Linked DNA regions of Homo sapiens: region 2 is linked to region 1. Evidence: fine-mapped expression QTL. A gene starts in region 1. The other region holds a variant in brackets. All regions are shown on one strand. Distances are from middle to middle.

What was found.
Region 2: its variant is fine-mapped to the expression of NEMP2-DT in subcutaneous fat (GTEx, PIP 0.98).

The regions. Positions count from the first base shown.
Region 1 is chr2:190,527,738-190,539,889 of GRCh38, forward strand. NEMP2-DT (NEMP2 divergent transcript) reads left to right here and starts at 7,101. Exons shown (of 5, transcript NR_183903.1): 1 at 7,101-7,384. NEMP2 (nuclear envelope integral membrane protein 2) reads right to left here and starts at 6,985. Exons shown (of 9, transcript NM_001142645.2): 1 at 6,822-6,985. The coding sequence starts at 6,918. RefSeq lists a silencer at 6,649-7,298.
Region 2 is chr2:190,416,695-190,428,846 of GRCh38, forward strand. All of the region lies in intron 2 of MFSD6 (major facilitator superfamily domain containing 6), which reads left to right. It also overlaps a transcript of NEMP2 not described here. Among named protein-coding and RNA genes, the nearest start is that of MFSD6, 14 kb to the left of the region's middle. RefSeq lists a silencer at 12,129-12,152. The variant A/G (reference allele first, on the strand shown) is at 7,413.

The sequences.
Region 1 (12,152 bases):
GATCATTACCACCTGAGCTCCACCTCCTGTCAGATCAGCAGTGGCATTAGATTATCATAGGAGCGTGAACCTTACTGTGAACTGAGCAACCTAGGGATCTAGGTTGCATGCTTGTTATGATAATCTAACTAATGCCTGATGATCTGAGGTGGAACAGTTTCATCCCAAAACCACCCCAACCCCACTCCTATCCTGTGGAAAAACTGTCTTCCATGAAACTGGTCCCTGTTGCTAAAAGGTTGAAGACTGCTGTTCTACAGGCTCTCTGTTAAATACAGGATACTAAAAATGAAAAACATGCTCCTGCATGGTGTGTCCATGCACAAGAGCCAAAAGAAGAATTCACAACCAGGGCTATGAATACACAAAGCAACCAATGCTGAGGCACATTTTTGAATATATCTGAGATGCAAATGACTTCTGGCCAAGGGCAGCATAGGGGGAAGTGCAGTCCCAGGGATATCAAAGGGCTGGCAGCTACCTATAGAAAAGAAGAATGTCAAGGAATGTAGTATATAACCTGGAAGATCCTGAGCAACTGCAATGAGAAGACATGAGAACACATTAAATGCTCCCAGTTAGTAAGCAGCAGAGGTGTGGGGATCAGATCTCTGGATTCACCTTGTCATGTTCTGCCTTTGCACAGCCTCCTCGGGGGGGTCTCTAAGCATGGCTAGAGTTAATAACTTTATACTGGGAGTCCTCAAACAAAAGTGATTCCTACCTATCGTTGGAAAGGGAGTGCATTCCAGCAGGGCAGGTGAAGAGCATGAAGTCTCAGGTACACGGACCCAGCAGCCCAAACTATGATAATAATGTTTACTTCCAGACAGGTCTTTCTTCACCACCCATGTGCTCAATGCTAGATGGGCTTTTCTTGTGGGTGCCTCCAAAGGTCCCTCACTGCAATTCTTCTAGTGAGTGCTGCTACTTCAAGGGCTAAATCAACTCTCATAGAACAGTTCCCTTTTGTTAATGGTCTGAGGAAATAACCTTTTGGTGGGGCCTGAGTTTTGCAATCAAATGCTCTCTTCAAATAAGGTTCTTTCCACTTGATCCTAAGACTGTCTCCTAAATCATTCCAAACCTGGAGCTCTTAAGAGCAAGATGATGCAATTTAAGTATAGTGTATACTGCAGTTTCAACATAGGAATAAATGCTTCTCTCTTACCCAAGCCACATTCCTCTTGCACTAGGATGATGTAATAGCCTTCTATCTGGCTGGTCTCCCTGCTTCCAGAATTGCTGCCCCCCAACTACCATGTTTTCCCCTACAACACACTTTTCAATTAGCAAATAGATCTTTTTAAAAACATGAATTGGGCCCGGGTACAATGGCTCATGCCTGTAATTTCGCTTGAACCTGGGAGGCGAGGTTGCAGTGAGCTGAGATCACACCACTGCACTCCAGCCTGGGCGACAGAGTGAGACTCTGTCTCAAAACAAAAACAAACACAAACAAACAAAAACATGAATGGGAACCCATCATTTACCTGCTTAAAACCCTCCAATGGTTTCCTTTTACACCATTAATAAAATCCCCCTCCCTTCCAGGGACCTGAGTGCCTCTATGACCTTCCCTCCTCCACCTTCCCTCCCAGCCCACTGCTCCAGCCACAGCTGGCCTTCCTGTCCTCAAGATGCCAGCGAGCCCCCACATAAAGTTTCCTCAGTCTGCTGCAACCTTCTTCTCCCAGATCTTGGCAGAGCTCATCCCTTCCAATCACTGATATACTCTATCAAACACTCCCTTCTCAGAAAGGCCTTCTTTGACCCCACTGTCTAAACAAACACACCCCAACCACTTCCACCTGCTTTATTCTTTCTTCATATTACATATATATTTATTAGCTTATACTCTGTCTCTCCATGAAGTCAGGGACATTGCATGTTTATCACTGTAACCCCCAGAACTTAAATATTTATCTTTTGTGTGTAGCTTGTGGTTCAAGAGGACTAGTGGGTTATTTAGGCATGTGTGGCCTACCAATGGAAGTCCAGCCAATCTTTGTAAGAGCCTGGCCAGGAATAGTCAGCACCGTAAAAGAAGGTGCACTCTGGCCCTCCCTTGAAACCACCTGATGTAGTAGGATGCCCTTGCCAGCCTGTGCCACTGCCATCCCATTTACAGAACTGACAAAGCATGAGGGCCAGTCTGGAAGCCACAGGCTGCACTTCCCCCTTGCCCTACCCCATGGCCAATACATCCATAGCTAGAGGGTTGAGTACTGTAACCCTTAACATCCTCTGGACTGGGGATCATCTTCTTGCCCCTCACTGGATAGAGGAGGTCAGAAAGAATAGGTGGCATTAAGCTTCTTTTGTTTGACTCATATATGATACATCAGTGTATTCTGGGTAAGGGATCTGCCAGTTAGAGGAAAAGAACTTGTTCTGCATTTCCCCTCAGTCTTCAACCAGATTAAGGACAGCATAGAAGGAAGGAGGTTGTCCTGACTGTTCATGCCTATAGACACGCTAGTAAAAGCATGTTGCAGTGTTTTCCCTCGAATTCTCCAGAGTGGCCTCTGGCTTTTGAGGTGAAGCTGATGTGGAATTTACACAATCCATGAGATTCCACAAAGTGTCAGTGCTTCATGGTGTCCTCTGGCTGCCCTTTTTTCTTATCACCTCTCTCCCGAGGTGAATGAGTCTCAAACAACCCACACAGGAATTCCTAAATATCTAAGGGACCATAAATTCAGCCATAAGAAGCCACAAGCCTAGCTTCAAGTCAGTTCATTAAGCCACGGGCTATTTGGACTAGGCAAAAGACAGTGATTGTCACAAGACTGTTATCACAGCTGGCCCACTGTTCTCTCTAGAGAGAACAGATCTTCCAATCTTAGATTGATTATAAAGGCTGTATCTTTCTTAGGTCTCTCCTCCCTTTAGCAATCTTCTTCTAGAGCCATTTCACTGCTCGGTTTCAATCATGTCCAATGGAAACAGGAAACAGAGCCAGTTTGACTGCTTATTTGAACTCTATGGCTGATTATGCCCTGACACTGAAGGCTATGAAGCTGCCTGCATGTCTGCGGGTTTCATTTATTCATGAGGCCCCAGTTATTGCTGGTTAATTCTACTAGGATAGAACCTCCGGTAGCAGATGTAGGCAAACTCAAATGTATCAAAACAACAACGGGCCAGGTGCTGAGGCTCATGCCTGTAATCCCAGCACTTTGGGAGGCCAAGGCAGGTGGATCCCTTAAGGCCAGGAATTTGAGACCAGCCTGGGCAATATGGTGAAACCCTGTCTTTACCAAAAATAAAAAATTGGCCAGGATCATAATTCAGTCTCAAAAATAAATAAACATTTAAAAATTAGAACAAAAACAACAACAATCCCCTTACAATGCAATCCAGGAAATGAAACAGAATTTCTAGGAATTTTTAAAAATCTAACAATAATCATTCATTTGGTCAAAAGGGAACAATACCTGCCTAGGGAAAGCTACTGCTTCTACTTGAGGCTGAGGTATTTAATATGTCCGTACCCTGGAAGGTGCTCCATAACCTAGGTAATCACTTCCTCAAGCCTGAATCAGATCGGGAGAAAGATCTGGAAGTGTAGGCTATCCCAGGTTTGCCTCAACCCTCAAGGACTGAGGAGTATCTGTGGGATCAACCCTGAATGCCATCCTTACTATGGAAAGACAGGTTTCTAAGCCTGGAAGGGCATCATTTTCCTTAACTTCTTGCAATCCTCAGCAGGCTCTTTGATGCTTTCAATTAACCTGACTTCTAGAGAACAGTATATTTCTGGATAGTTGTGCCCAAATTTCTAAGATGTTACAGGAGGCATTAATTATTTACATTACCAAAGGATTCAGAAAGTCAGGGTTCCCTTAACCAATGAGATAGATTCCTTAGTTCATTTTAAATACCACTCAATTTATGAATATTCAATTAATCTAATTTTAGAATTACATATCTAGTATAAAAAAGGGACAGCTACATATCACCTAATTATAAGCTCAATTATCTCCTTTGTAGTACTTTTGTCATTTATTAGTTTTCCTAAATGTAAGTATATGTTTAAGTTAAAGAGTTGAGTCATATATACGGAAAAAAAAACCTCAGTCAAAACATCAGAAAAGAGCAGGCAGTACTTAAACCTACTTACAGAATATGCTAAAAATAAAAAGCACAAACACCTCAAATCTTAGCAGAACCTAACTCCCAACACAAAAATATCTCACCAATGTTCCTCCTGAAAACTGACATGGCCCTCATATGGGGAAAAAAAATATCTTCAGATGAAACTAGAATGGAATCATAATATAAACACTTATTAACTTATATGACAAATTTCCCCATTTTCCCTATAACTGTTTTTCTTTGGGGACAAGGAAGGGGAGGGAGAAGAGTAGGAAACACAAAAAGCAAAAAACCAACAAGTCTTAACTTGTGAGAAGTCAAATGGACTCAGGATTTTTCTTACTATTTGTTTTTTGTAAATACACATTTTCAAAGGTGTTAACGTGAGGCACCAAAGTGATAAAGGTAACTATTCTCTTAACCTCAGTTTTTTTTAACCTGAATATTCATCTTTTTCTTTCTCCAAGAATATGAGAATGAAACTGGAATTAGTATATACTCATGCACACTCAGGTCTTTAACTTCAAGTTCAAATCTTCACAGATGAATCTTAAAGCTGTGGTGTCAAATGGACTGTTATAGTTTAAGCCTGGAAAGCCACTGACAGGGCCTGAACTTCATCTCAGGACAACACATGGTTTCTAGGGACCTCACTAACTGGGTGAAAATTATGGGAAACTCTTGAAGTTTCTCCTCTCAGTCAGACAACTACCTGCTCCTCCTGTGTCAACTGTCTCTGACTTTCCTCCAAATAGAGTGACAGAAAGCTGGGGTTGGTCTGAATGTTCTCCATTCCATTGAAGTGTGTGTTATTCAAGACAAAATTTTAGAACAGGAAGGCACCTTAGGTATCACTAATCCAAGCCCCTCGCTTAAAGGAAGTACCAGCTGTTTCCTCTCAGGGTCCTCAAGAAACCATAGACTTTTAAAGAGCAGCTATGGTTCTTAAGCCTAGTCTAATCCAGGGCTGCCAACAGTGTCACTGGCACACTACCAGATGCTGGGCGCTTCACAGTCCGTATTGGAAAGCCTACCGGAATGGCAGGCATCCCTCTAAGGCTACAAAAGTTGCCATTCTTCTTAGCTGTGGACTAGTTTTATCAAGTCAGTGGGCATCCTGCATGTCTCAGGCAGAACAGAAGCTCCAATAAGTATTTATGTGTGTCTTTGATTAACAAAGCAGAGAAGCAGGCTGTTACTATTATACTAAATGCGGTAACATAAAAACTTTAAAAACACCAGGTTCACTGAGGTGAGGAAAATACTGGAAACTCTTCAGTAAAAACATCTTCATTTTACTCAAGAGAAAACTACGGTCCATAAAGACTCTGTGCCTGGACCAAGGTTATACCACAAGTTGTGGCTGAAGGAATGAGTGGTCTAGAACCCAAGGTGCTGGGTGCTGGTCTAAGGCTACTTCTAATTTTCTCGCTGTTGCCATGCCCAGAAACCTTCCTGCTTAGACAGATTTGTGTTTTATTTTTTCACCAGCATAAAATTGTTGTATTTCTTACTACCAAACCTTCGTTTTCTCATCTGTAAAATGGGTATAAAATGGTGCTTTCCCGCATAGGGCTTCTATGGGTATTAAATATGATAGATACTGCAGTTAAAGCACTTATAACACTGCCTAGCACATACTGAACACTCAAAAAATTTCTCTTCAATGAAAACTGGAATCCAACACTTCCCCAACATATAACTCACTGCAAGATTCCCTCAGTTGGGAGCTGTGGCAGAATCTGATAATGACCTCATCAACATCCAGTCTCTCATTCATCCTTAGATAAAAAACCGCGGTATAACCGGAGGGAGGGCCATGCCCAGCTAAAAGAATACACTTGGCAGCCTCCCTTGAAACCAGGGTAGCCAAAGCAAGGAAGGGAAGTTGGTAGACAGTGCACCCAGGAAATCTTTTAAAAGATTTTATGAGGGGAAAAAAAAAAAGAAACAGAAATGTGAAGCTCATGGTAAGTTAGCGGCAGGTCTGGAGTTGGAACTCTAGGTTTCTGACTTCCCCAGGTGTCCTTCCCAGATCCTTCCCCAGTGTGCCAGCATCTTAAGCCCACTCCGTGGCGAGCCCCTACAGCTAGCAGCCGCTACCAGTTCTTGCTTCCTGTGTGCCAGGCATTGTGCACACGAACACCACAAGAACCTTGTGAGGCCTCATTACCTGCCGCTCACGTGGGACCGTTATGTTTACTCGCTCAAGGTCACAACAGTCAGGGGCAGAAGAATTTTCGCTCCGATTCTGAAGCTGAAGCTGTTACCTTCTCTAGTCTTGAGACCAAAGGAATGCGAGATAGTGAAATAACAAGGATTTCAACACGCATTGATGTACTGTACAAAAGGCCGTGTGCTGAAAGTCTGGAGACTAGGGTCAGCTGTGCCAGTGACAAGCTGTGTGACCCTGGGCAAATCAAAACCTCTCTGAGTTTCGGTTGCTTCTGTAAAACGAGGGAATTGGGCGACTGGATCGCGCGGTTGCTTCTAATTCTAAAATTACAAAATGTCCAACTGCCAGGCGAGAGACTACGGAAGCCCAGTAAGACAGGAAGGGCGGGCGGGGCCTGCCCGGGAGACCCCAAAGCGAGAAAAGGGAGCGCCCGCCCCAGTGGGCCTCGCGGTGCCGCCCGGGCCAAAGAGCGCGCCCTCAGGGCAGCCGCGAAGCCGGGGAGCGAGCACGCACGCGCGCGCCGCCGCCGCCGGTCCCGGGTTACCTGATAACGCTGCCGCCGCCGCCTCCCCGCGCACGGGCAGTGTGGCCAGGGGCGGCAGCCAGAGCAGCAGCCACCACCGCCCTTGGCGCGGCCCCATTTCGTTAGGGGTCAGCTCCGTGCGACCCGAGCCCTAGGGGACCGGCTCCGCTGCGAGGAGCGGAAGTGGCGCGGGGGCTCAGAGAAGGCGGAGGGGGCGGTGAGGCCCGAACGCGGGAAAGGCGGAGACCCCGCCTCCCCGGGGCGGAGGGAGAGTTGGGCTCGTTGCTCCAGCCTCCGCCCGCGGCCTCGGGGCACGGCGGGCCCAGGCCGGAGGAGCTTTCGGTGGCGCGACCCCGCTGGCATGCTCCCGGCCTCGGCCTCGGCCTCGGCCTTGGCCTCCGGGCCTCCAGCGCACGCGGGGCGTCCAGGGCCTCATCTTCCCCTGGGGACCGCCCGGCCGTGTCCCGCTGCCCTCGGCGCAGGGGTGGGAGTTGCAGAGAGGAAGAGTCGCTAACCCGGAGTGTTTCTTAAAACTTGGCTGACCTGTGACCTGCGGATTTGGAGGCTGAATTCTCCGAGCACCTGTGAGTGACAGCCCGTGAATGGGAAGGTCCTTCGGCAAACGCCCTTTTTGTGAATAAAATACATAAAAGCCAGTTTCTTTATTTTACCTTTCTGTTTATCTTTTTACTTTCATTTGGTAACAAGCAATAACAAATTGGAAATTTGGCCGCTTAAGTAACACTGACTTGTATGTCTAATCTCGGACACGGCATTTCAGAGTACAGAGGGGCTCGTAAAATGTTCCTTCACCAACATGACAAGGTTCTCTTAAAATTACCTTATGTTAAAAAAAAGTTTCTTAATGTAATAGATATATTTTTAAATTAACATATAACCTGAATGATCTTAATACTGATAATTAGGAGATATACATATATTTTAAAGAACATTCCCTCCACAGGACCTGGAACCCATTAATTTGACTCAATATTCCATACTTAACTAGGACAGTCTTCTCTAATTCTGGTCTTTTGGTGAGATATCTTAGAGAACCCAAAGTAACAGAAATTATCCTGTTAAAAATAGATAAGCCTCATTTTTCCTAAAAGTCTGAGTAGGATGGACTAGGCTTTCCTTGCCCTCAAAGAAAGGTTTAACCAACTGCCCTTAAGCACTTGGCACCATGTGTACACCATGTATGGCTTTTAAAAAGTTAAGAAATTTCCTTGTAAGGGACTCTTCAGAGGGATGGTTTTTAAAAATAAACCATCATTACTTGAGTGAAGCCTGTCTTCAGAGAAACAGCAGAGCCCTGATCCAATTCTTTCCTGTATTCCCAGGTGCGGTGTGCACTTGCTTCTTGCAAGACAGCTTTTGTACCTAACCACATTCATTTTGATTTGGTTTAATTTTGGATGGCACTATGGAAAGTAGCTAAAATAAACAGGTGGGTTGTTGAATGATGAATGTATTTTCTACAGATATATCTGGTGGAGAAACAAAAGGGCAGGCAGCAATGTACTAAATATTTAAAGTGCTATTTATATCACAGATCCTTAGTAAATATCTGTAAAGAAGCTATATTGAAACACCACATTTTTCTCTATAAGCAATAAATATTTTTCCGGAGATAACAAGAATGTTAGGAGGTGATAGTTCTGTCACTGGGGGACAATCATGAAATTCCACTTAACCTCTCCAAACTTTTCTTCTGTATGAAAACCTTATCCACTGGGGGAAGGGCAGGAAGCTTTACCACCAACAGGATCCTGGCAAAGACCCCCTGCTTCTGGAGAAGAGATAGAAGCACAAACCTTCTGCCCTTTGGGGAGCAGCAGGAGCAGGAAACACTAGGGCTCTGTGTCCTGAACCAATAGAAAATTGAAGTTGGCTACTGCTGGGAAACCCTCTCTCACTCAAGACTCACCACAGATAAAGGAAGGATTTGGCTGCAATGGGAAAGTGTCAGGAATACTGGGAAAGCCCCACATCTAAGGTTCAGGTGCACAGGGCCTGCCTAAAACCAAGGCAGGACCAGGAGTGTGAAAAACCCCTTTTCCCCACTACAAGCCAAGCACCAGTGACAACACCAGTCAACTAGTGAGGAGGAAAAAGAGTGGGGAGAGACCTCTCTGTAACACAGGCATGCAAACACTGCTAAAAGCTGAGTGAGGGACACTGAGAAAAACTCCCCAGCACTCTAGGTTCCACACTAAAACAATGCAATAGTAACCCCCTGCTAGAGGAATCTGAATGAAGCCTGTGGTACAGAGTGAAGGCAAGGATAACAACAACAAAACCCAAATTCAGCACAACTCCTGACTAGATTGACTCAACTACCCACATTATTGACTGGACAGAAGAGGCATGTTTATTTCTGGACATTAATATTATTTACCTCAGTTGTTACTATTCTCCTACATGTGATATCCATCATTTGATCAAAAATTAAAAGACACCCAAAAAAGCAGAGAGGAGAAAAAATCAAGAGGTAAAACAGAACCAGATTCAGAAATGACCCATATATTGGGCTAGAATTAATATGCTTATAAAGCTAGTGGAAAAGGTGAACAATATGCATGAATATATATAGAGAATTTCAGCAGAAAGAGGAAAATTACTTAAAAAGTGAAATGGAAAGGCTAGAAATTAAAAACACCGTATCAGAAATGAAGAATTCTTTCAATGGGCTTATCAGCAGACTGGACATAGCTGAGGAAAGAACCGGTGAATTTGAATATAGGTCGATATGGTTTGGCTGTCTCGCCACCCAAATCTCATTTGAATTGTAGTTCCCATAATCCCCACACATCGTGGGAGGGACCCAGTGGGAGGTAACTGAATCATGGGGGTTATTCTTATGCTAGTGAGTGAGTTCTCATGAAATCTGACGGTTTTATAAGGGGCTTTTCCCCTTCACTCAGCACTTCTCTCCTGCTGCCTTGTGAAGAAGGACATGTTTGCTTCCCCTTCCACCATGATTGTAAGTTTCCTGAGGCCTCCCCAGCCATGCAGAACTGTGAGTCAATTAAACCTCTTTCCTTTATAAATTATGGGATCTGTGGAACTTTGAACTTGAGAGATGATTTAGGGTATCTGGTGGAAGAAATTTCTAAGCAGCAAAGCATTTAAGAGGAAGCAGAGCATGAAAGTTTGGAAAATTTGCAGCCTGACGATGCAATAGAAAAGGAAAACCCATTTTCTGGAGAGAAATTCAACCCAGCTGCAGAAGTTTGCATAAGTCACAAGGAGCTGAATGTTAATCAACAAAACTATGGGGAAAATGTCTCCAGGGCATGTCGGAGACCTTCTCAGCAGCCCCTCCCATCACAGGCTCAGAGGCCTAGGAGGGAAAAATAGTATCATGGGCTGCACCTAGGAAACTTCACCCCATTGGCTCCTCAGCCAAGCACATACAACAAATGTCTGAAACTGTGGTTCCTTTTATACTGAGCAGGATTACCATGGCAACAACACATCAACAGTAGGGTAAAGCTAACCTGTCTCATGATGGTCTAAAGTGACTAATCCACTCTAGCATTCCAAACTAAAACAGGGAAAAAAAGGCAATCTCTCTTCAACCCCTCCCACCATCCCCTTACCTCTGGTAACCACCAACCTACTTTTTATCTTCATAAGATCCAGTTTTTTTTTAGCTCCCACATATAAATGAGAACATGTGATATTTGTTTTTCTGTGCTTGGCTTATTTCACTTAGCATAGTGACCTCCAGTTCCATCCATGTTGCTGCAAATGATAGGATTTCATTTTTTTTATGGCTGAATAATATTCCATTGTGTATATATGCCACATTTTTTAATCCATTCATCTCATTGATGGACACTTGGGTTGATTCCATGTTTTGTCTATTGTGAATAGTGCTTCAGTAAACATGAGAATACAAATATCTCTTTGATATACTAATTTCCTTTCTTTTGGATATATACCCAGTAGTGGAATTTCTGGATCATATGGTAGGTCTAGTTTTGAGAAACTTCCATATAGTTCCCATAGAGGCTGTGCTAATTTACATTTCCACCAACAGTGCACAAGTATTCCCCTTTCTCCACATCCTTACCAGCATATGTTATTCCCTGTCTTTTTGATTAAAAAAAAAACTGAAGTGAGATACCTCATTGTGATTTTGATTTGTACTTTCCTGATTATTTTGGATGTTGAACATTTTTTCGTATACCTGTTAGCTATTTGTATGTCTTCTTTTGAGAAATGTCTATTCAGATCTTTTGCTTATTTTAAAATTGGATTATTTGGGGTTTTTTGCTATTCAATTGTTTGAGTTCCTGATATATTCTGGTTATTAATCTCGGTCAGACAAGTAGTTTGCAAATATTTTCTCTCATTCTATGGGTTGTCTCTTCCGTTTGTTGAGTATTTCCTTTGCTATGCAGAAGCTTGTTAGCTCGATGTAATTCTGTTTGCCTATTTTTTCTTTGGTTCCCTGTACTTTTGTGGTCTTACCAAAAAATCTTTGCCCAAATCAATGTCCTGAAACGTTTTCTTCTAGTAGTTTCATAGTTTCAGGTCTTAGATTTAAGCCTTTAATTCATCTTGAGTTGATGTTTCTATATGGTAAGATATAGAGGTTAGCTTCATCCTTCTGCATATGGTTATCCATTTTTCCCAGCACATTTTATTGAAGAGACTCTCTTCTCCCCATTGTATGTCCTTGGTACTTCTGTTGAAAATGAGTTGGCTCTAAACATGTGGATTTATTTCTGGGTTCTGTATTCTGTGCCATTGGTCTATGTGTCTTTTGTTATGCCAGTACCCTTCTGTTTTGGTTACTATAGCTTTGTAATATATTTTGAAATCAAGTAGTATGATGTCTCCAGCTTTGTTCTTTTCGCCCAGGATTGCTCTGGCTATTTTGAATCTTGAATGGCTTCATACAAATTTTAGGATTTTTTTTTATTTCTGTGAAGAATGTCATTGGTATTTTGATAGGGGTTGTATTGAATTTGTAGATCACTTTGGGCAGTATGGACATTTTAATAATATTAATTATTCCAATCCATGAAATCTTAAATTTCTTTCATCAGTGTTTTATAGTTTACTTACATAGATTTTTCACTTCATTGGTTAAACTGATTCCTAGGTATTTTATACTCTTTGTAGCTATTATAAATGGGATTGGTTTCTTGATTTCTTTTTCAGATTGTTTGCTTTTAGCATATATAAATACAACTGATTTTTGTATGTTGATTTTTGTATCCTGCAACTTTACTGAATTCATTTACTACTTCTAACAGGTTTTTTTGTGGAATCTTTAGGTTTTTCTAAGTAAAAGATCATGTTATCTGCAAATAAGGCTAATTTGACTTCTTCCTT
Region 2 (12,152 bases), 110 kb before region 1:
AACTACCAGCAACACCAAATGTTCATATGTTGCTTTTAGATTAACAGAATGCTTTCTCATACTTTATTTCATTTAAGCTCTAGAATCCTTCTGGGAGTTAATTGACTTAAGTTTGTATGGAAAAGGAGGCTTAAAGAGGCACTGATTTATCAAAGCCAGGGGGATGCAACTGGGACTTCTTTTGACTCTACTTCCTAAAATGAATTTTTGATCACATTAAACTTTAATAAAAATTTATATGTTTATTGTCATCAGGTGCTTGTCAAAATAAACAGTATTGAGAGCTTACAGGGGTAAAGGGCAATATGTTATGTTCTAGATTCCTCCCTCGAGGGGTATACAGTCTTGTTGGGCAAACGAGATATCTGTAAAAAGATAGCAATAAAATTACCTATAAATCCTACAGTAGATGTGAGAACAATCTCTAGAAGTAGAGGAAGGAGTGAGGAAAATGTTTCAAGTGTATTCTATTTCCAGATGTTATGAAAGGTCCCATTAGATATAGTGAATTCATAAAGTACTGTTTGTTCTGAAATGATACCATCACAGGACTTCAGTACTGGATCATTAGCGGTAAGATCAGCACACCAAAATAAAAGTTCAAATGTTGGGAAATCCTTAGCAAGGTCACAGTAGCAAAACCCTGCCAATCTATTCATCCTTTAAGATTGGCTCGAGGCCCCACACCACAGACCCTCTGTGTACATCACCTGTGCTTGCTCCTGTTTGAACATTTAGCATAAGGTGTTGTGATTGTGTGTGCCCCCGTCTTCTTCTCGCCTCTGGGTGTCATGACAGGGACTGTGTGGCCTCCAGCATGTGTCCTACCTACTAGTGGGTGCTCGATCTATAGCTGTAGGGTTTTTTTGGTTGTTCAAATGAATGTCTTTTTTTCAGTATAATTCCATTGTATTTTGTGTTCTGTCGTCCCTCAGCCTGGTATTCAAGGCCCTGTGCCATCTGTTGCTGTCTGGGTGGCCTCATGTGCCCTTTAGTCTTGGGATAAATCTTTTACGGATCCTCTGCTGCCTTTTCTTTCCTCTACCCTGGAATAGTTTTCCCACTCATCTTTGCCTGTGAATCCTGCCCATCTTTCAGAGTTCAATTTAAGCCCCTCGTTTTCTTGACAACCCCTGTCTGAAGTATGGACACCCTACTTGGAACTCCAGAAGCATGCCTATTGTCCCTAATATCTTTTAGTTAATAAATTATATAGGGCTATGTGGCTTTTCTTCCATTATTATTCTGACTTTTCATTTAACCCTTTAGTGGTGTGTGTGTGTGTGTGTGTGTGTGTGTGTGTGTGTATGTGAGAGAGAGAGAGATGTGGTTTATCATTGCTTGTCAATGATAAAGCAAGTCTTTGAGGCCTAAGACCTAACTTTTGGGATCCCTGTCTCATAGCTGCACAGTGCATTGAGAGTCAGTACCTGCTAAGAGCAGCACTGCTACTCATTCCCTATGTGACTTTGGGCTGGTTATTTGCCTTCTCTGTGCCACAGTTTCCTCATTGGTAAAACTGGGAAAGGAATCATTTCCACCCCAGAGAACTGTTGTGAGTATTAAATGAGTTAATACATGCTAGGTTCATAGCAAGTGTTACTTAAGTGTTATTGTATTGTAGTTGGTAATAATATGATAGTATAATCCACTGATTCCCTGTTGAAGTGCAAATATGTTGTCAAGATGGGGCAACCAAGGTTGTGAATCAGCTTGCTTATGATCTAGCAGTCAGGTTTTACTAGGAGCCTTGGAAAGGCCCACCAAGAATGACAAGGTGGTTGGGCACAGTGGCCCACACCTGTAATTCCAGTACTTTAGGAGGCTGAGGCAAATGGATCACTTGAGCCCAGGAGTTCAAGACCAGCCTGGGCAACATAGTGAGACCCTGTCTCTGCAAACAACTGAAAAGAATAGCTGAAAGTGGTGGTGTGTGCCTGTAGTCCCAGCTACTTGGGAGGTTGAGGTGGGAGGATCACTTGAGCCCAGGAGGTCAAGGCTGCAGTGAGCTGTGATTGTGCCACTGCGCTCCAGCCTGGGTGGCAGAAGGAGCCCCTATCTAAAAAAACAAAACAAAACAAAAGAATGACAAGGGTGCCAGGTTCTAGTTTCTGGGAGGAGTTTCAATCCCAGTGGAATGCTGCTAGTAGCAGCTCTGGGGAGCTAGTAGCAGCTCTGGGGAGCCCGTGGGCAGTGCTGAGTGCCTGGAGGGCTCAGGCTGGAAACTGGGCTGACAGGACTGAGACCAGTTTTGTTTCTTTCATCATTTGGCTTTGCCATAAAGGAACCATGTCACAATACCCTGAAAGGAAGAGGAAGATTCCAAAATAGTCATTCATCTTTGCACAGATCAGTGCCCTTGTAGCCTGTGTGACTGTTATAAAACTAACCTTATATATTTTTTTCATGACATTGGCTAAATGTCTAGCAGATGCTAAAGCAATCCTGATGGAAAAAAAAAATCTATGGGAATTGACCTCGCACACTGTGTCTCTGGAAAAAGCTCTATCCTGGAAGAAGCTGGGGGTTGAACTGAATGTTTGAGTGCGGTGTGTGAATACCTAGATTCTAACGCTCTTTTACAGTAGTTTCCCTGTGTCTATACTGGTCATAATTGCAGCAGTATGTTAGAGTCCAGCTCTGGGACTCACATTTCCCAAAGCCATTGAGAATGTTGGCCAATAACAGTTGACAAGACAGAGCTGGCTGCAAGGGTTTGAAAAGTTGATTTCCCTGCTTCGCAGCTTCAGCCCTCATCACTAGGCAACACTGAGTTATGATGGCCATGGCACAAGGAAGAGTGTCCCTTCTGTGGTATCCAGGGACTATTTCCTCTCCATCACTGATAATTATGTCACTGCTATGTTATAGCACACATTCTTATCATGTTTGTAAATCTAACCTTTGGCAATTATTCCAAATAATGTATTCGATCTCAGGGTTTCTTTCTTCAAAAGTTGAATCCATTTTCATACTCTCATATATTTGCGGATAACTCAATATATGTTTGAACAGTTTTAATTCAAATACATAATGAAGAAAGCTATCAGTTTTAATAAGAATGATTTCATTGCCTCTCATCAATAATTCAGAAATACCTGCTATTTGAATGACTCAGTGTAGGTACTGGTAGCATAGCTTTCCAGGTTTTAGAAGTCTGTGTTATATTTTCACAATAGTTGTATTGATTACTATCATTAGACTGTGCCAGGTGAGAAGACTTCTGCTTTCCTAAAAAGTAAACAAAGCCTTCCTTATCTGATTAGGATGAACTGCAAACCTGCACTAGAGAATATTTCCCAGAAAAGATCATAAAGTTAATTCTGTATATAATTTGAAATGTCTTCTTAACTCTATATTTTCAAGTTTCTTTTTTTAAAAAAGCATTAAGACTCAGACATTAAAAACAAAATATTAACTGAATTGATTCATGTTCATTGCCCACTGTCTTAGTTTGCTCAGGCTGCTATAACAAAATATATAGCAACCATATATAGCATATATATATAGCAACCATATATAGACAGGGTTGCTTGAACCACAGTTTATTTCTCACAGTTCTGGAGACTGAGAAATCCAACATCAAGGTGCAAGTAAACTCTGTTCCTGTTGAGGGCCCTCTTCCTGGCTACTAGATAGCCACCTTCTTGCTATGTGGATAGAGAGAGAGTTGCCTCCTCTTATAAGGGCATTAATCCCATCAAAAAGGTCCTATCTCATGACCTCTTCTCAATCTAATTACCTCCAAACGGGGCTACCTCCAAATACCATCATATTGGGGTTTAGGGCTTCAACTTATTAATTTTGGAGGGGCTGTAGACATTTAGCCCATATCAACCTCTCAATAAACAAAATCTCCTTTCACTTTATAAACAGATTGTCTCATCCAGCATATAAATATTTTTACTACTCTTTGTACTTGTTTTGTCATTCCTTAAGACAAATTAAATATAATCCACTTCAGCCAAAGATGCCCTACATTGGGATATACTTGTTTTTGGTTTCTTTTTGTCCCTGATCCTGTGATTACACTTTATTTATTATGCTTTATTTCATAACTGTGTTTATAATGTGATTTCTCCATGTTTTGGTTCCTTTTTACCAAAATCTAAATATGACCTGAAAATATTGAGTAAAAAAAAATAATGACCTGAGTTTAACAGTTTTGTTTGTCTTTTAAGATTTGAAATTCATATAAAAGTTACTGTCTATGACATTTATATATGGGATACTGAATGTCATATTACAGAAACATTTCCATAACGACTTTGTATTTGTTGATACTGTGAGAACTACTTAACATCTGGACTTATGTAACCAGAGAAACCTTGTGTAACCTTATGATACTCAAAAGTCATTTGCATATGGTGGAGAGGAAATAATATTTTGGGAGAAAGTCACTCATCAAGGTTTACATCAATATCTTAATGTAAGATATTTCCATTTTTGAATTAGCATATGGGCATCAGTTCTTCATAATCACTTGGACAATTCAGGAAATTATGCCCATTAAAGAGGACTTTGTGTCCTTCTCTGATCTACCTGGGGAAGATTCAGCAGATGATTTATGTAGAATAATTAATTAAAGTTCACTCTAAGGCCCCTGATTAGAATTGATGTGGAAGGACATTCTGTACAACTCTGAAAAATGTTTAGTCAGTGATAGAAGGGTGTTAGTAGTTGGCTTTAATGTCGTTTGTAAAGACAAAATCCACATGACTCCATATTTCTTTCTCAGTTTTTATTTTTAAAGTGAGAGTTATGGATGTATGAAGTTAAAAAAATGAACATGTTTACAAGGTTACAAACCAAAACAAAAAAACAGACTTCTGTGCTCTTTTTATTTCTCTTCCCAGAGGCAACTACTTTTTCTGCAATTATTTTGATATTCACCTATTTATTTATTTGAGACAGTTCTCACCCTGTCACCCAGGCTGAGTGCAGTGGTATGATCATAGCTCACTGTCCTGGGCACCTCAGCATCCCAAGTAGCTGGGACTGTAAGCATGTACCACCATACCTGGCTAACTTAAAAAAAAAATTTTTTTTAAAGATGGGATCTCACTATGTTGCCCAGAACTCCTGACTTTAATTGATCCTCTTGCCTTGGCCTCCCAAAATAGTAGGATTATCACCTGTATGTCTTTAAATAAAATTCTTGTATCTGTATTTCTTGACTTTAATTTTATTTAAAGACACTAGATAATATCTAGTGTCTTCCCACTATAGAAGAAACCAAGTTAACTCTCTCTTCTGCTCCTGACTGTCTAATGAGAAAGCCTAACTTTCTCATTTCTCTGACTTCCCAATGTAGCTATAAGGCAATTTTGGTTAGTTCAGTATTCATGTTTGTATTTGTATGACTGTGTAATCATAACAGAGACATGTAGTAAACTGCATTTTTTCTTTTTCTGTGCAACTCTTTGTTTTCTTGTAGTGTTCTGTTTATTTAACTTTCTCTGTATTTATCAGTTATTCATCCTTGAATGTTTCACCAGCCATCTAAATTTCCTCTTAGGACATTCAGGTGTATTGGTATTCTACCAGTGTCATTTTTCTGACGGTCTCTCCTGAAACCTTCAGTCCTATTCCCACTAGACTGGTTGCCCTTCAAAGTTGTCATTCCTGGGATCTCCAGTTCTGTCATCCCTGTATTCCTGTTGCTTCTCTCCCATGTTAGATCTCTTATTTCCTGTATCCCTTGTCTGTCTTTCGCTTGATTTATCCTTTTGTTCTGGTGGAACACAACCTGAGAAAGGGTACATAAGAGATAAATTTTGTGAGAAATTGCATGTGTAAAATGTCTTTATTTCACCCATAAACTCAAGTAATAATTTGGCTACATATAGATTGTGATGATGTTGTTGAGATATCTGAAGCCATTCTCATTCCTGATGCTTATTATGTGAAATATTTTATACTCTGAAAGTTTGTAAGGTAATTCGTTTGTCCCAGTGTTCTGAAACGATGATGTGCTTTGGCTTGTGTCCATTTTTATTCATTGTGTTAGGTACTAGGTGGGTCATTTCACTCAGACAACTCTTATCTTTCAGTTTTGAGGCATTTTCTTGAAATTTTAAAGTTTTCTTCCCTTAATTTTTTTCTTTTCTTCCTTCTTGGAGTTATTATTTTCTAGATGTTTGACTTCCTGGGAGATGCTATATCTGTCTCATTTTTTCTCTCCTACTTTCATCTTTTTTTTTCTTCATATTAAGTTCTTTTGTTGTAGAATACTGTAGTTCAGTGAGTTTTTACAAAGTCAACACTTCATGAAATAAAGCCCTAGATAAGAAAATACATTATCAGCACCCCAAAATTCCTTCTAGTCACTATCTCCCTTAAGGGTAACCCCTATCCTAACTTCTTTTAAACTTTATTTTGAGATCATTGTGGATTCACATGTAGTTGTTAGAAATAATAGAGCAATGTCCCATGTATCCTGTACCCCCTGACTTTTCCCCAGTGATAACATCTTGCAAAACTATAGCATAATAGCACCATTGACATTGAGGCAGTCAAGATACAGAACATTTCTCTCTGTCGCCACCAAGGTCCCTCATGTTGCCCTTGTATAGCCACCTCTACTTCCCTCCTGTCCCCACTCTCTAGTGAATTCCTGGCAATCACCTGTCTATCTCTATTTCAATGATGTTGTCATTTCAAGAATGTTATATGAATAGAATCATACAGTATGTAATGTTTTGAGATAGGATTTTTTCATTCTATAATTATCTGGAAATTTATCCAGTTTATTGCATGTATCAATCGTTTGCTCCTTTTTATTGCTGCATAATATCCCATAGTAAAGCTGTAGTACAATTTGTTTAATTAGTCCTTCCATCCTTTGAAGGGCTTTTGGGTTGTCTCCACTTTTTGGCTATTATGAAGAAAGCTGCTATAAACATTTATGCATGGGTTTCTGTGTGAAAATAAGTTTTCATTTATCTGGAATAAATTCCCAGAAGTGTAATTACTGGGTTTTATGGTAATCATGTATTTAGTTTTATTAGAAACTGCTAAACTGCTTTCTAGAGTGGTGTACCATTTTAAATCCCCACCCACAGTATATGAGTAATTTGGTAGTTGTGCCTCCTTATCAGAATTCAGTGTTATCCCTATTTTTATTTTAACCATTCTTATAGACGTGTAGTGATATAGCATCATGGTTTTAATTTACATTTCCCTAATCATTAATGATGTTGAACATCTTTTCATTTGTATCTATGCATTTATATATCCTGTCTATCCTCTTCAGTGAAATGTCCCTTCACGTTTTTTGTCCATTTTCTAATTGGATTGTTTGTTGAGTTTGGAGAATTCTTTACATATTCTAGAAACTAATCCTTCGCTGGATTTGTGGTTTCCAAGTATTTTCTCACAGTCTGTAGCTTGTGTTTTCATCCTCTTTGCAG[A/G]GTCTTTTAAAGAGCAAAAGTTTTAAATTTTAATGAAGTCTAACATTAGTTTTTCCTTTTATGGATCATGGTATCGGTGTCAAGTCTAAAAACTCTGCCTAGCACTAGAGGCTAAAGATTTTCTTCTTCTTTTTTTTTTTTTCTAAATGTTTTATAGTTTCAAATTGTATAGTTAATGATCCATTTTGAGTTAATATTTGTATAAGGTATAAGACTTAGTTTGAGGTTATTTATTTATTTTTTTTTCAGACAGAGTTTCACTCTTATTGCCCAGGCTGGAGTGCAATGGCTCTGTCTCGGCTCACTGCAACCTCCGCCTCCCAGGTTCAAGTGATTCTCCTGCCTCAGCCTCCCGAGTAGCTGGGATTACAGGCACATGACACCATGCCCAGCTAATTTTGTATTTTTAGTAGAGATGGGGTTTCTCCATGTTGGTCAGGATGGTCTCGAACTCCTGACCTCAGGTGATCCGTCCACCTCGGCCACCAAAGTGCTGGGATTACAGGCGTGAGCCACTGCGCCTGGCCGAGTTTCATTATTTTTGCCCATGGATGTCTAATTACCTCAGCACCATTTGTTGAAAGGTTACCTTTCCACCATTGAATTTTTTTTGCATCTTTGTTAAAAAACAGTTGGGCATATTTGGGTGGATTTGTTCTGGGTTCTGTATTCTGTTACATTGATCTATGTGTCTGTCCTTCTGCTAATACCACACGGTCTTAATGCACAGCTATATGATCTTTTTCAAAACTGCTTTAGCTATTCGTTTCTTTCCTTTTCTGTATAAATTTTAAAATCTTGTCTATATCTACAAAAATATGTTGCTGAGATTTTGATAGGAGTTGTGTTAAACCTGTATATCAATTTGAGGAGAATTGAAATTCATAAACATGGATCCATTTATTTAGCTCTTTGATTTCTTTCATCAGCATTTTATGGTTTTCAGCATAAGGCCTTGTACACATTTTTTAAATTTATACCCAAGTGTTTCTTTTTTAAGCAGCTGTAAATGGTATTATAATTTTGGTGTCCATGTGTTCATTGCTAGTATACAGAAATACAATTAATTATTGTATGCTTATCTTGTATCCTGTGAACTTGCTGAACTCACTTATTAGTTCTAGAAGTTTATTTATAGGTTTCTTGGGATTTTCTACCTAGTCATGTTAACTGCAAATAGGGACAGTTTCTTTGTTTTTGATCTGTATGTCTTTTGTTTTCTTTTATTTCCTATTGCACTGGTGAGAACTTCCAGCATTGTGTTGCATAAGAATGATGAGAACAGACAGTCTTGCCTTGTTCCCTATCTTAGAGAAAAAGCATTCAGTCTTTCACCATTAAGTGCAGTGTTACCCATGGGTTTCCGTAGGTGATCTTTATCAAATTGAGAACATTCCCCTCTGTTCTTAGTTTTCTGAGACTTTTACCTCAGAACCTATTTTCTGAGACTTTTTCAAATGTTTATTTTATCAAGTGTTTTTCTGCATTGATTGGTAAGCTGAAGTAATTTTTCTTTTTTAGCTTATTAACATGGTAGATTGAATTGACTGACTTTGAAATATTGCATCAGCCTTGTATTTTTGGAATCAACCACACTTTGTCATGTTGTATAATTCTTTTTATATGTTGCTAAATTCTCTTTTCTAATATTTTCTTAAGGGTTCTTGTATCTAGATTTACCAGGGATATTAGTAGTTTTCTGTTTTTTTGGACAGTCTTTTTTTCTGGATATAGCATTCTGCATTGACAATTCTTTTCTTTTAGCACTTAAAAAAAATTGTGCCACTTCCAGTGTCCATGGTTTCTCAGAAATCTGCTATCATTTCAATTGTTTTTCTCCCATTGGTAAGTTGTTTCTCTCTGCTTTCAAAATTTTTTTCCTTGCCTTTAGTTTTTAGAAGTTTGACTGATGAGTTTTGGTGTGGGCATTTTGTTTTAGTTTTATCCTGTTGGGATTGCTCAGCTTCTGGAATCTGTAGGTTTATGTCTTTTGCCAATTTGAGAAGTTTTTAGCCTTTACTTCTTTGACAACTTTTTCACTCCCTTTTTTTCTCCTCACCTTCCAGGACTATGATGACATGAACATTAGATCTTTAGTTACAGTCCCATAGGTCCTTAAGGCTCTTTCACTTTATTTTCTCTCTGTTCAGATTGTGTAATTCCTATTGTTCTGTATCCCAATTCACTCATTAATCCCTCTGTCCCCTTTATTCTGCTTTATTAAGTGTATCCATTAAGATTTATTTTTGTGGTTGTATTTTCCAGTTATAAGTTTTCCATTTTTTCTTCCATTTCTTTGCTGAGACTTTCTGTTTTTTTTGTTTTGTTTCAAGCATGTTTATAATTGCCTATCTAAGCATTTTTAGGATGGCTTTTTAAAAATATTTTAAATTCAGGGGGTACAATGCATGTTTGTTACATGGGTATATTGTGTAGTTGTGGGGATTGGGCTTCTGCTGTACCCATCACCCAAATATTGAACATTGTACACAACAGGTAACTTTTCAGCCCTCATCCCCCTCCCATTCTCCCCACTTTTGGAGTCCCCAGTGTCTATTATTTCCAAATGATGGTTGTTTTCAAAATGGTTGTCATTCCTGTCATCTCAATGTTGGCATCCATTGATTGCCTTTCTCCATTCAGTTTGAGATCTTCCTGGTTCTTGGTGTGACGAATGATTTTTTATTGAAAGCAAGATGTTTTGGGTATTATTTTATGAGACTGTGGATCTTATTTAGACCTTCTGCTTTAGCTGACTTTTTCTGAAACTGCTCTGGCAAGAGAAGGGAGGATGCTGCTTTATTACTGCCAGCTGGAGGTAGAAGTCCAAGTTCCTCACTCAGCCTCTTTGGATACCTGAAGGTGAAAGACTTTTCATTACTGTGAAGTGGAGATGGGCATTTCAGCTCCCCAGTAGGCCTCCTCACATGGCCTTCAGTGACACCCATTGAGAGTGAGGGGTGGACCTCCTTACTGCTGGCCAGTGGTGAAAGTCCTGATTCTCTACTGTAACTCCTGACATCACCCCAGTGGGGAAAGGTAAGGGTGCCTTGTTACCAACAGGTGGGTTGGCAGTCCAGGCTTCCCATGTAATCTCCACTGATACTGTGGCCTCATTACTGCCTAGCAGGGATGAAAGTCCTTGCTCCTTTATCTTCTCTGATCCCACCTTAGTTGAGGGGTTGGGGGTTCCCCATTATAGCTTGGTGAGGGCAGAATTGTAGGCTCCCTGCTCAGCCTTTGATGGTGTGGGCAGGAGTGGGAATAGGGTTATGATCATTTTTTCTGTGGTATTTGGCTGCAGTCGAAGTTATTATCTAAAGTTCTGTGTCTTTCTAGACTGCCCCTTTCCTGGTTCATTAGATAGCAAGCAGGCACTTGTTAGGGCTTTTTGTTTGCACCTATCTTCACCCATCAGTATTTCTTGGTTCTTCAGCTCCACTCATACTTGTGTTGTTCCTTGGGTACCAAGGTCCATAGCTGGTCTGCCTTTTTTTGTCTATCTTTCAGAGTCTTCTATGTTTACTTTATATATTATTGTCTAGGGTTTTTAGTTGTACTTAGCAGAAGTGATAGAGAAAATTGTGTCTACTCCATCTTCTTGGAAAAGAAGTCTACCACTTTTTTTTTTTCTTTTTTTTTGAGACAGAGTTTCACTCTTGTCACCCAGGCTAGAGTGCAATGGCACAATCTTGGCTCACTGCAATCCCCACCTCCTGGGTTCAAGCGATTCTCCTGTCTCAGCCTCCTGAGTAGCTGGGCTTACAGGTGCCTGCCACCATGCCCAGCTAATTTTTGTATTTTTAGTAGAGATGGGGTTTCACCACGTTGATCAGACTGGTCTCGAACTCCTGACCTCAGGTGATCCACTTGCCTCAGCCTCCCAAAGTGCTGGGATTACAGGCGTGAGCCACTGTGCCCTGCCATGTCTACCACTTTTAATACCATAACTTAGTTTTGCCTGTTTATTATTTTTCCATAAGTGGAATCATGTGTTCAGTGATCTTTTGTTTCCTGCTTCTCTTAGTCCATATTATGTTTGTGAGATTCATCCTTGTCACTGCATGTAGTTGTAGTTTGTTCATTTTTACTGTTGCACAGTATTTCTTTGGATGGAAATACTACAATTTATGTATCTGCTGTAGACAGGTTGCTCCCAGTTTTGAGCCATTAAAATTATTCTGCAGTGAACATGTTTATAGATGTCTTTCGGTGAATATACATATCTTTTGGTTGTCATAGGGTCTTACACTCAGGATTAGTAGCTATTCCCAGTTTTTAAAGTAGTGTATCAATTTACAGTCCCACCAGCAATCTATGAGAGTTCTAGTTGCTCCACATCCTCATCAACATTTGATATTACAGGTTGAGCATCCCTTATTTAAAATGCTTGGGACCAGGAGTATTTTGGATTTAGAATTTTTTCAAATTTTAGAATATTTGTTTTATACTTACCTGTTCAGCCTTCTAAATCCAAAAATCAAAAATGCTACAATGTGCATCTCCTTTGAGTATCATGTTGGCACTCAAACATTTAGAGATGCTTGCTTATTTATTTATTTATTTATTTATTTATTTATTTATTGAGACAGAGTTGCACTCTTTCACCCATGCTGGAGGGCAGTGGTGCTATCTCAGCTCACTGCAACCCTGCTTCCTGGGTTCAAGTGATTCTCCTGCCTCAGCCCCCCGAGTAGCTGGGATTACAGGCATCTGCCACCATGCCTGGCTAATTTTTTT